Linked DNA regions of Homo sapiens. The protein of the gene in region 1 interacts with the protein of each later gene in a pairwise test. Each region holds a gene or a part of one and is shown in the gene's direction. Other genes may lie near its edges.

Evidence for each region.
Region 2: the proteins of SYNGAP1 (region 1) and ELAVL3 interact in binary tests that used the Homo sapiens proteins (3 or more experiments, as listed by UniProt).
Region 3: the proteins of SYNGAP1 (region 1) and ISL1 interact in binary tests that used the Homo sapiens proteins (3 or more experiments, as listed by UniProt).

Annotation. Positions count from the first base shown.
Region 1 is NC_000006.12:33,418,479-33,422,223, forward strand, and holds the start of SYNGAP1 (ras/Rap GTPase-activating protein SynGAP), read left to right. Parts: upstream 1-1,586; 5' UTR 1,587-1,786; coding exon 1,787-1,853; intron 1,854-2,523; exon of another isoform or gene 2,524-3,745. UniProt on the Homo sapiens protein: Major constituent of the PSD essential for postsynaptic signaling. Inhibitory regulator of the Ras-cAMP pathway.
Region 2 is NC_000019.10:11,457,045-11,460,689, reverse strand, and holds part of ELAVL3 (ELAV-like protein 3), read left to right. Parts: intron 1-2,078; coding exon 2,079-2,232; intron 2,233-2,403; coding exon 2,404-2,629; intron 2,630-3,541; coding exon 3,542-3,580; intron 3,581-3,645. UniProt on the Homo sapiens protein: RNA-binding protein that binds to AU-rich element (ARE) sequences of target mRNAs, including VEGF mRNA. May also bind poly-A tracts via RRM 3. May be involved in neuronal differentiation and maintenance.
Region 3 is NC_000005.10:51,386,405-51,390,049, forward strand, and holds part of ISL1 (insulin gene enhancer protein ISL-1), read left to right. Parts: exon of another isoform or gene 1-196; coding exon of another isoform or gene 197-222; intron 223-1,085; coding exon 1,086-1,345; intron 1,346-3,241; coding exon 3,242-3,528; intron 3,529-3,645. UniProt on the Homo sapiens protein: DNA-binding transcriptional activator. Recognizes and binds to the consensus octamer binding site 5'-ATAATTAA-3' in promoter of target genes. Plays a fundamental role in the gene regulatory network essential for retinal ganglion cell (RGC) differentiation.

The DNA of each region.
Region 1 (3,745 bases):
CGATGCGTCAGGCTGTGGAGTGGGGAATCATCCTTAAACCCCACAATGTGCCTAGTGACCTCCCCTGCACTGTTTCCGAGGTCTTAAGGAGTGGGAGGGTCTGAGAAGGACCCTTCACCCCAAACTCAGGGGTTAAGAGAGCGCCCCCTGCCCTTTTAGTTGGGCAGAGATATGCCTGGGTTTGGGAATGAACAACGGTGATCTAGAAGCCCGCTGTCCCTGGGTAGCAGGGAGTGATTAGGCAGGCACGGGCATGGCAAGACAATAGCTAGCTGAGGAAAGAAGCATTTTAAAACAGAGCGAGACCCTGTGGTAGAGGATGGTGAAAATGGGGCCTAGCCATCTTAATTGAAAACCCAAAGCTTGAGACAGACTACTGAATCAGAGGGAAGGAGAACGAGGGCTGCAGGATGGGGACAGTGGTGATGGTCCTTCTGTCCCCTCTTCCCTGCCTATTCCACTCCCCAGGATTGGTCCACCTCTCAGCCTCGGGTCTCCTTTCCCTAACCCATCCCCCAAGGAGCCAGGACCTGCCCTACATAACTTCCCTGGGGCCCAAGCACATCCTGTGACCCAAAAATGGAGAGAGGGGCCAATGAGAGGCAGAGAGGTGGGAGGAGGTGCAGAGAAAAAAGCTCTTGCCACTGCCCCCACCCAATATTTCCCCTCCCTTCAAGGTCTGAGGTCATTGGTCTGGTGGTGGGGATGCCTCGGAGTTTCCCAGGCTGACGTCAGGGTTATACCTCTCGGAGGTTCTAGGGCAGGGAAGTGGGGAGGGGAGGTTCCCTGAGATCTCTGTCTTTGAGTTTGGAGTTTGTCTCTGAGACAGATTTCGGAGGGGTCTTTCAGTATTTGTGTGGAGATCTTTCTTAGGATTGAGTTTCCTTTTATGCTTCTGGTTTGGGGGGTTTCTATGTTTCAGGGTCTGTGGTCGCACTCTGAGGTCTTTCGAAGTCTTCTTCATGAATTTTGGGTCTCTGAGTTGTCCATCTCCGGACCAGCTGAAGTCTCTATCTCCCCTTAAGTCAGGAGTGTCTCTGTCTCTAAGTTATCAGTCTCTGAGATCTGAGTCTGGGGTCTCTTTCTAGGTCTGAGTTCTCTAAGCTCTAATTCTACATCTGGCTCTTTCTGAATCTGGGCCTCATCTTTTTCTGAGTCTAGGTCTCAGGTCCTGGTCCCTGAAATCATCATCTCAGGGTCTGGAGTCTAAGATATCTGTAGGTATGGAGAACCCTTTTTAGACTGGATTTTCAGATTTTGATATTGAGCTTCTCTCTCTGGGGGATCTGGGGTCGTTTTTTCCTCAAATCAGGAGTCTCTTTTCCTCTAGATTTTGGCCCTGTGTCTCAAATTACCCCACAGTGGGGGGTGGTGAAGTATCTTTCTCTGTGGGTCTAGGGTCTCTCTGTCTCAGGGTCTGGGGTCTGCATCTTTAGGACCTCTGTCTCTCTCTGGTGTGTTTTTGAGTCAGGGGTCTCTCTCTCTCTCACAATCTGGGCCTCCCGGAGTAGGGGTGGGGGCTGCAGAGTCTCTCCCTCCTCCTCCTCCTCCTGCTCTCTTCGCTCTCGCTCGCTCCCCCGCCCCCCCTCTCTCTCGGCTGCCGCTGCTGCCGTTGGCTCTTATTCTCCTCCTCCTCCTCCTCTCTCCTCCTCTCTGCTTCTCTCTGCTCCTCTCTCCTCCTCTCTCCTCCTCCTCCTCCTCCACCTCCTCCTCCTTCTCCCCCTCTTTCTCCCCCTCTTTCTCTCTTCTTTCTCCCCCGTCCCCCCGCCCCCTCCCCCCAGGCCTGATGAGCAGGTCTCGAGCCTCCATCCATCGGGGGAGCATCCCCGCGATGTCCTATGCCCCCTTCAGAGGTACGTGGTGGGGGGAGGGGGAGGGCCATATGGGGGGCAACAGGGGGAGGGGCAGGGGGCGGGGGAGAGTCGGGGCCGAGGGAAGGGAGCGGCTGAAATGGAGGGAGAGGGGAGGACCGGGAAGGCAGGGGTGGGAGCAACCGGGAAGGAGGGATTGGAGGCCAGAGGGATAGGGGTAGATAAGGGATGGAGGGGCCAGGAAATGGGCCTTGAAAGGGGGCTGAAGGGAAAATGATGAAGGGGAAAGAAAGCGCCAGAAAGGGGTGGGAAGGTAGAAGGATTGGGTTGGGGAAAAAGCTGCAGAAATAATTTGGGGGTGGGAGCTGAGTGATGAGGAAAACATCAAGGAAATAGAGGGACAGAGTCTTGGGAGAGGGGCTAGGAAGGAGAAATGAAAACATAGGGGTGAAAAGAGAAGCCAAGAAGATGTGGGGGGATAATTTGGTGGGGGACTCAGAGTATGGTAAGGGGCGGAAAAAGAGAGGAGGATGGAGGGAGAGAAGGGGCCAGATGGAGAGAGAGGGAGGCAGTGGGGGGTGGGGGGATGGAGGGTCCAGATGGAGGGAAGAGAGAAGAGAGAGGGAACGGTGGGGGAGGGGAGACCAGGGCAGGGGGAGGGCCAAATTATGTGTGCTTGGGGGGGTGGCAGTACAAGTAAGATGAAATGATGGGAGTAGGGGACAGGTTAGGATCCTGCCCCAGACTCTGACCCTCTTAAAGGCTCTTGACCAGTAAAATGTAACCTCTGGGGTCTTAATGCTGTCTTCACTTCATCACTTTTACCCCCTTCCCCCACCCCTCCAATCCTTATTTCCATTCCCCCTCCCTCCTCTGCTGTCCATCACCTATATCTTTCCCCCCATATGGTGTCCGTTCCTTATATGAGTCCCCCTTCTGTCCTTCCCCTATATCAGTCCCCTCTCTGGTGTTCATTGCCTCTCTCTTATCTCTTTTCTATGTGGTCGCTCCCTTATATCTCTATCACTTCTTTACTAGTCCGTCTTGACCCCTTCTCATAGCCTCCGCATTAGGTCTGCCTCCTTTGCTCTGACACATGTCCAGTCGAGCCCTTCAGGTGTATTCCCTTGCCCCTGGGCATTTACCATCATTTCTGCCTCCTTTTCTATCTACTCCTATTATTTGTCTCCCAGACCATTCCTTGTCACCACAAGTCTGTGCCTACCCACTTTCCCTTAATACCTCAACTCTTATTATCATTTCTCTTTTCTTGTCTCCTCTACTTATTGGGGTGTTGGAGATTTGGGGTACAAAGACACAGGTTTTGATGATTAGAACAAGGGATCCCCATCTCAGCCCTTGAGGGATTTCTCATCCTAGTAAAAATTTCCCGTTTCTCAGCCATGTTGCTCTGCCTCTTGCATCTGCCTCCCAGAATCATTCTTCACCAAGTCCAGACAGTATGTGTGTGTGTGTTTCTAGAGTTGTTCCTAAGTTCCCTGCTGCCAGGAGAAAGATGCCCTCTGAAGTCTAACCCGCCTCCCTTGGCTGCAGCCTGAACCAGCCCTTTCCCCAAATGCTTATGTGTATCAACAGATTTCTCCTCTGGGTATACCAAGTGTCTAAGTGCGGTGGGCATGTTGCCTGCAATGTCTGTAGTTTCAGAGGCTAGGTATTGGTGATCTCTGTATCTAGAGAACATTAGTTAGTCTCTGAGATGGGTTGAGATAGAGTTTCAAAGTATGTGGTTTCTAAATGGTGGACATTCTGAGGGTTCATCGCTCACTGTGATCTGGAGGTTGGGTAAATTTGAGAGACATATTTATAGACAGAAAAGGGCTGAATTTGCAAAACTCTGCTACTCAGTGCATTCTGTTGGAATGAAGCTCAAAGACCAGTTCTCCTGCAGTATACTCATGGTTATCCCATAAAGG
Region 2 (3,645 bases), on another chromosome or scaffold:
TTCAACTGAGACCCAAAGAAAGAAGAGGAGGAAGAGCATTCCAGGCAGAGAGAACAGGCAATGCCAGGGCCCTGAGGCTGAGACATGCCTGGTGTGTTTGGGAAAAATGGGGGAAGTTCAAGTTGCTGGAACACAGTAATTGGGGCAGGAAGTAGGGGGAGATGAGGGCAAGGATGTCATGGGGAAGAATGTGCAGGGTTTTGCGGTCCAAGGAAAGGACTTTGGCTTTTCTGCTGAGGAAGGTGGGAGCCATAGAGGGTTCTGAGCAGAGGGGGGATGCGACCTGGCTCAGGTGTTCACAGGCGCCCTCTGGCTGCCGTAGGGGGGACAGACAGTGGGGGATGGGAGCAGGGGGGGCCAGGGTGGAGGCTGCTGCACTGGTCCAGGTGATCAGTAGTGAAGGCTGGGCCAGGGTGGGACAGTGGCAGTGGGGTGAAGTGTGTGGATTCTGGATAAGGAGGAAGGTAGAGCCTACAGGATTTAGAGTGGGTTGGATGTGCATGTGAAGAACAGGTGTCGAGAACAACCTGAACCTGGGGACATGAGCACTTAGGAGGACAGAGTTGCCATTAGTGAGTTGGGGCAGATTGGAGGCGGGCGGGAGCAGGAGGCACCCGTGCTGTGTATGAAGTGCCCTTGACACCCCCATGTGGGGCACCTGGATGCAGTTGCCACCAGGGGTGCAGACTGGGGACATTTGGGAGCTGATGACTAAAGACCTGAGTGTCCCTGGGGGGCCCAGTGTAGCTGGGAAGAGAAGGGGCCAGTGTCTTAGGTCCACTCTCTATAGGAGTGGGAAGAGTGGCTGGGTGTGGTGGTGCATGCCTGTAGTCCCAGCTACTTGGGAGGCTGAGGTGGGAGGATGGCTTGAGTCCAGGAGTTGGAGGCTGCAGTGCAGTATGATTGCACCTGTGAATAATAACTGCATTTAGCCTGGGCAACACAGCAAGACTCCGTCTTTCAATAAAATAAAAATAGGCCAGGCATGGTGGCTCACACCTATAATCCCAGTATTTTGGGAGGCCGAGATGGGAGAACTGCTTGAGGCCAGAAGTTCAATACCAGCCTAGGTAACACAGTGAGATCCTGTTTCTACAAAAAAAAAAATTTAAAGATTAGCTGAGGCCGGGGGAGGTGGCTCACACCTGTAATCCCAGCACTTTGGGAGGCGGAGGCGGGCGGATCATGAGATCAGGAGCTCGAGACCAGCCTGACCAACATGATGAAACCCTGTCTCTGCTAAAATTATAAAAATTAGGTAAGGCGCGGTGGCTCACGCCTGTAATCCCAGCACTTTGGGAGGCCGAGATGAGCGGATCACAAGGTCAAGAGGTCAAGACCATCCTGGCCAACATGGTGAAACCCGTCTCTACTAAAAATACAAAAAAATAAAAAAAAAATTAGCTAGGCGTGGTGGTGGGCGCCTGTAATCCCAGCTAGTCAGGAGGCTGAGGCAGGAGAATTGCTTGAACCCGGTAAGCAGAGGTTGCAATGAGCCGAGATGTCGCCATTGCACTCCAGCCTGGCGACAGAGCAACACTCCATCTCAAAAAAAAAAAAAAGAAAAAAAAAATGCTGGTCAGGCGTGGTGGTGGGCGCCTGTAGTCTCAGCTACTTGCGGGGCTTAGGCGGTAGGATTGCTTGAGCCCAAGAGGTCGAGGCTGTAGTGAGCTGAGATCACACCATTGCATTCCAGCCTGGGTAAAAAAGTGAGATCCTGTCTTTAAAAAAAAAAAAAGGTCAATGTTTGTTGATGGACTGTCAAGCATGTGATAGTGATGTGAGCCGGCTATTCAAGGATCCCTTTGGGGTCACATGTCACCCCAGGGAGACATGTCCTCCCTAGGTGGCAGGTCCCCATCACTCTATACAGGCAGTCCAAGTTGTTACAGCCACTGCCATGTCCCCTCTCCCATATCTGACTCAGCCCCACCCCACGGTGACAACTCTAGAGATACTTATTGAGTGACGGATGGGTCACTTCTGCTAACTCCGTGATGGTTTAGACATGGCCTCACTCTCTCCATCTGTGAAATGGGTCTCTGCCTCACCCCTGTCCATCTGACCCCCTCACCCAGGTGTCCTATGCCAGACCCAGTTCAGCATCCATCCGGGATGCTAACCTGTACGTCAGCGGGCTCCCCAAGACCATGAGCCAGAAAGAGATGGAGCAGCTCTTCTCCCAGTACGGCCGCATCATCACGTCCCGCATCCTGGTGGACCAGGTCACAGGTCAGGCAGTCAGGGAGGGTGCACCTGGCGGGGGCGCTGGGCAAAGGCAGTCAGGTGGGACCAACGTGGGGAAACCGACCAAGATGCCAGGGCATGAAGCAGGGAAGGGAGAAGTGGGGTTACACAGGAGGGGACAGGGTCGTCGTGATGGACATCCCTGCCCCCTGGCAGGTGTCTCTCGGGGTGTGGGATTCATCCGCTTTGACAAGAGGATTGAGGCCGAAGAGGCTATCAAAGGACTGAATGGGCAGAAGCCGCTGGGCGCAGCTGAGCCCATCACAGTCAAGTTCGCGAACAACCCAAGTCAGAAGACGGGGCAGGCGCTGCTCACCCACCTCTACCAGTCATCCGCCCGGCGCTACGCAGGCCCCCTACACCATCAGACCCAGCGTTTCCGGTGAGCCCCCTGCCAGCCAGATGGCCCCAGGCCGGGTGCCCCCAAGCTTGCAACCCTCCCTGAACCCCATTCCTGCCGAAGGGAGGGATGCCGGGAGGGTGCGCACACATGGGAGCCAAGGAGCCTATCTGTCAGGTGCCAAGGCCAGCCACTCATATACAGCAGGCCCTCAATGTGTGCTGGCCGCGACGATTGGCATTCTTGGTGTTAAAAGATTTTGGCGTCATCTGGGTTCCAGCTCTGGTGGCCCCTTTCTCTTTTGGGCACGTGGCTGTAGCTCTGTGCCTCAGTTTCCCATCTGTAATAACACCAAATATTTCATGAGTCTTTGCTGTGTGCTAGACACCCTTATTTTTCTGCAACCCGATGAGAACAGAGCTTGTGTTGTCCCTGTTTTATGGACGGGGACCCTGAGGCACAGAGAGGTGTTGGGGTTTGCCTGGCCCAAACAGAGCAGAGACTCAAACCCAGGACCTGGAGTCCAAGCTCATAGCCACTCCAAGGGGAGACAATGGAAGCCCCTTGTGGGCCCCCGGGTGGCCGGGGCAAGTTACCCACCCCCTCAAGTGCTGCGAGAATGTTGGCTGTGGTAGTTACTGTCGCCTTTGTTAGGAGTTATCTTTCCCCAGGGATCCCAGCGCCTGGGCCCAGAGGGGACCCGCCAGCCAGGAGGGGGAGGATGGATGAGGAGGCCAGTGCAGGCTGGACAGCGGTGGGGCAGGCGAGAGGCGGTGCCTGAGTGACCACGGTTCCGTGCCAGGCAGTGTCTAGCCGGGCGGGCGGGGAGCAGGCAGGCGGGGGCAGGGCTCTGCTGCAGGCCTGTTGGGTGGGGGTGGGGAGGGCAGGCCGACGGTGTCACAGCAGGGGGGCGTGACTGGAAGCCACCTCTGACCACCACCTCTGCCTCCACAGGCTGGACAATTTGCTCAACATGGCCTACGGCGTCAAGAGGTAACAGTGACCCCGCCCCACTGTCCCCACCCCTCACCATCCATGCCCCTGATGCACCCCTCCCC
Region 3 (3,645 bases), on another chromosome or scaffold:
TGTGTGTGTAATCTTGTAGTTGTAAAAGCAGAACAGACTGGACAGTTAGATTTCCACATCTCTCCTTGGAGAAGCAGGATGCCTCCTCCTGTTATGTGGATCTTTTCCTCTCTCTTCCATTCTTTCTGTTCGTAGGAATGCCCCAGCTTCTGTTATTCCTGAAAGATGGAGAAGGGGCCAGGGAAGTGCAGCCTAGATGGAACCTATAAAGATTGTCCCTTGGTAAGGAAAGGCCAGGAGTGAGAAAGACCTTAGAAGCGGGTCTTTGCATTTTTTTCATTCTGGTCATGGTTTTCAAGAAAATTGAAATGAGGTAGATGATTCAGCAACTTGAAAAAGATTGAGGGAACAGACGCAGATTTTTTTAAAAAAATAATAATACAAGGAAGAATGGAGAGGAAATTTTCTGTTAACATTGCTGCCTGAAGAAAATCTTTAGTTGGAGAAAGACTGGAAAGTACTTGTGCAAAAGGAGATGTGGAAACTCTCAGAGGTTTCATTTTGTTATTCTGCTTGTTTATTTGTGAGTGTTTGCAAACCGAGTGGGGTGACAATCCCCTTCTCCTACCTCCTTTTTTCTTGGAAGGAGGACTTTTTGTTGCAGTTTTAGACATTTCTAGCAGCAGAAATTGTGGGATAGGGAAGTGAAAGTGTTGGTGTCGGTGGCCACCAGAGTCTTTCTGGATTCCTTCCTGCCAAGATCTGCAAGATCAACACTGGGATTGATTGCTAGAGCAGCAGCCCGAGTTTGGAACCCATCAATACATTTTCTGTGGTACAAGCTAGGTGTTTTGAGCTAAGAGTTACCAACTAAGACAGAGGTTCATCGGAAAGGAAACGGGAGTAAAAGAAAGGGAGGAGGGAGGGAGGGGAAAAGAGAGATGGGGGAAGGAAGAGAGACAGGGAAGGAGAGAGCAGGGTTTCATTTCTGTCCTTCTGTTTCCAACTTCTGTTTGGAAATGCTGTTTACTTGGGGCGTCTTGCCCGGGATCTTGGGCCAGGGAAGTGCCGGCCTGAAGTGACCCCCTCTTCCTGTACTTCTCTCCCCGCTCTGGGCCGCCTCCGCTCCCCCCTCCCCCGCACAGGTTGTACGGGATCAAATGCGCCAAGTGCAGCATCGGCTTCAGCAAGAACGACTTCGTGATGCGTGCCCGCTCCAAGGTGTATCACATCGAGTGTTTCCGCTGTGTGGCCTGCAGCCGCCAGCTCATCCCTGGGGACGAATTTGCGCTTCGGGAGGACGGTCTCTTCTGCCGAGCAGACCACGATGTGGTGGAGAGGGCCAGTCTAGGCGCTGGCGACCCGCTCAGTCCCCTGCATCCAGCGCGGCCACTGCAAATGGCAGGTACTCCTCTGCCCGGCTCGGGTAGGCAGGCGCCAGGTTAAGCCAGCCTGTGTGCCAGCGGCCACAACAACTATGGTAGCTACAGGGGTGGTCGTAGTGTTTGCCTGCAGTTAAATGAAGTGTTCTGTATGCAATTTGCGCTGTGCTCTGCTCCTTTGCAGCAAGGTTCAATGCACTCACTGTCTCCCTTGATTCCCCGAGCACACCTACACCGTCTGTGTGTCTCTATATGGTTACACATAAATGTACACCACTTGTGTACACGTGTATACACACGCCCAAACATTACTTCCAGTTCGCTCTGGCCTCCAAACCTTGGCTTGCTGAAAACGGGCTTCAGCTCCCAGCCAGGTATTCTCCTGCTGCCTAATTAAAGGGGCGGAGCCCCGGGTCCCTGGAGCTTCATCCTTTAACCCAATGAAGGAAGCTTAGGTGGCCTGAAGTCATTTAGTCTCCCAAATCCTTTTTCCTTGTGAGTTGCTTCACACTCGAAATTTTTTTTTTAATTTTTTTATCTTTCTGTGAGAGAACAGGACTGAAAAGATACAGTTTTAAAAACTGCAGGCCATTGCACAGAGTTGTAATATAAAACTGTCAACAAGCTTATCTGCAGTAATTGCCTTTTAAAGGGAGCCTGCTTCTTTAAATCATTCATTCTATATGATTTGGTGAGAATTTCATCTTCAGGCCCATGGTTGTAGCTCTAAATTGACCCCATAGGTGTTGGCCTGACCCTAGGGGGTTGTAGAAGGTGCAGGATTTGTATCATGTAGATAAGAGGACTCATTCCCAAGGAAGAGGAGTGGAAACACAGCAAGGTTGGCCGGGACCAAAGCAGTGGGTTAGAAGGTGGACAGTGTTTCCAAACCTGACTTCCTGCCATGAATAGATCTACCCCTTTGCAGTTTTAAAGTATCAATTCCCACTAAACACTGAAGGTGAGGAAACTATAGCCCTCCCTTACCCTTCTGCCTTCTGGCAGCTCTAAGAATTCTGTTCAGGGGGATTTGTGACTAGTTTGCACCGGGGCACGGCTGGGGTGGTGCTCCTGTTCAGTGGAGCCTGCACTCTGCTTGTGGGGAAGCACAGAGGAAGCTAAAATACCGAGAGGGAGGCGGGGGACATCTCCCAGCCACCGTTTATCTAGAGCCTAGGCAGCTCAACAGAGTTTCCGTTTTCCACTGCTTGGGATCAGCCCATCTCAGGAACATCCATGTATTACCTTAGATTTAATACTAAGAGCAGGGATTGGAGATATGGCAGAAATAGCGAATCTCTTCAGCCCCTTCACATGACTGTCCTCTCGGACTGAAGTTCAAGGCGTTCTGGCAGAGTTCTCGACCTTCCCCTTGCAGAAGTCCCTGCTGGTGTAGTATTTATGGCTGTCACTGAAGTGCTCTGCGTTCCTTTCCCTGGTACCCTCTGTGGCCTTGGCCCAAGAGAAAATTCTGATCCTGGAGAGGGTGGTAATCAATGTAACTGGGGCCCAGTCTGGGCACAAGGAAAGGTGAGAATGGAGGAGAAACAGTGCTGAAAAATGCCACCCCTGCTGTGAACAGGGGGACAGACTTTGAGACCTGCTTCCCTTGGCTAACACTTTGTTGACACGAGGAGGGGCGAGTGCTGCGTTTCAGGCCGGGATTACTCAGCAAAGACCTCTGCAGATTAGAGAGGAAGATTTTATTCTCCCTTTCACCCTCTTCGCCCCCACCTCTGCCGCCCCCTGCTTTGTGTGCTGAGGCTGCAAACCCTAGCCATTGTCCTGAGTATCTCGGGCGGGCGAGCAAGTAAGCGGGCGGGCGGGCGGGCAAGCGAGCGAGCGAGCGAGCGCGCGACCGCGGGCGGGCCGGCAAGCGAGCCTCCAGCCCAGCGCTCACGGCGCTCCTTGCCCCGCAGCGGAGCCCATCTCCGCCAGGCAGCCAGCCCTGCGGCCCCACGTCCACAAGCAGCCGGAGAAGACCACCCGCGTGCGGACTGTGCTGAACGAGAAGCAGCTGCACACCTTGCGGACCTGCTACGCCGCAAACCCGCGGCCAGATGCGCTCATGAAGGAGCAACTGGTAGAGATGACGGGCCTCAGTCCCCGTGTGATCCGGGTCTGGTTTCAAAACAAGCGGTGCAAGGACAAGAAGCGAAGCATCATGATGAAGCAACTCCAGCAGCAGCAGCCCAATGACAAAACTGTGAGTGGCTCTGGGGCCGGGCAGGGAATGCGAGGGGGAAGGAGACGCAGCGTGCGAGGTGCGTTCCTGGTACGCAGGATCGCACGGTTTTCAATCCTGCTCCTGGGCAGGAGTTTG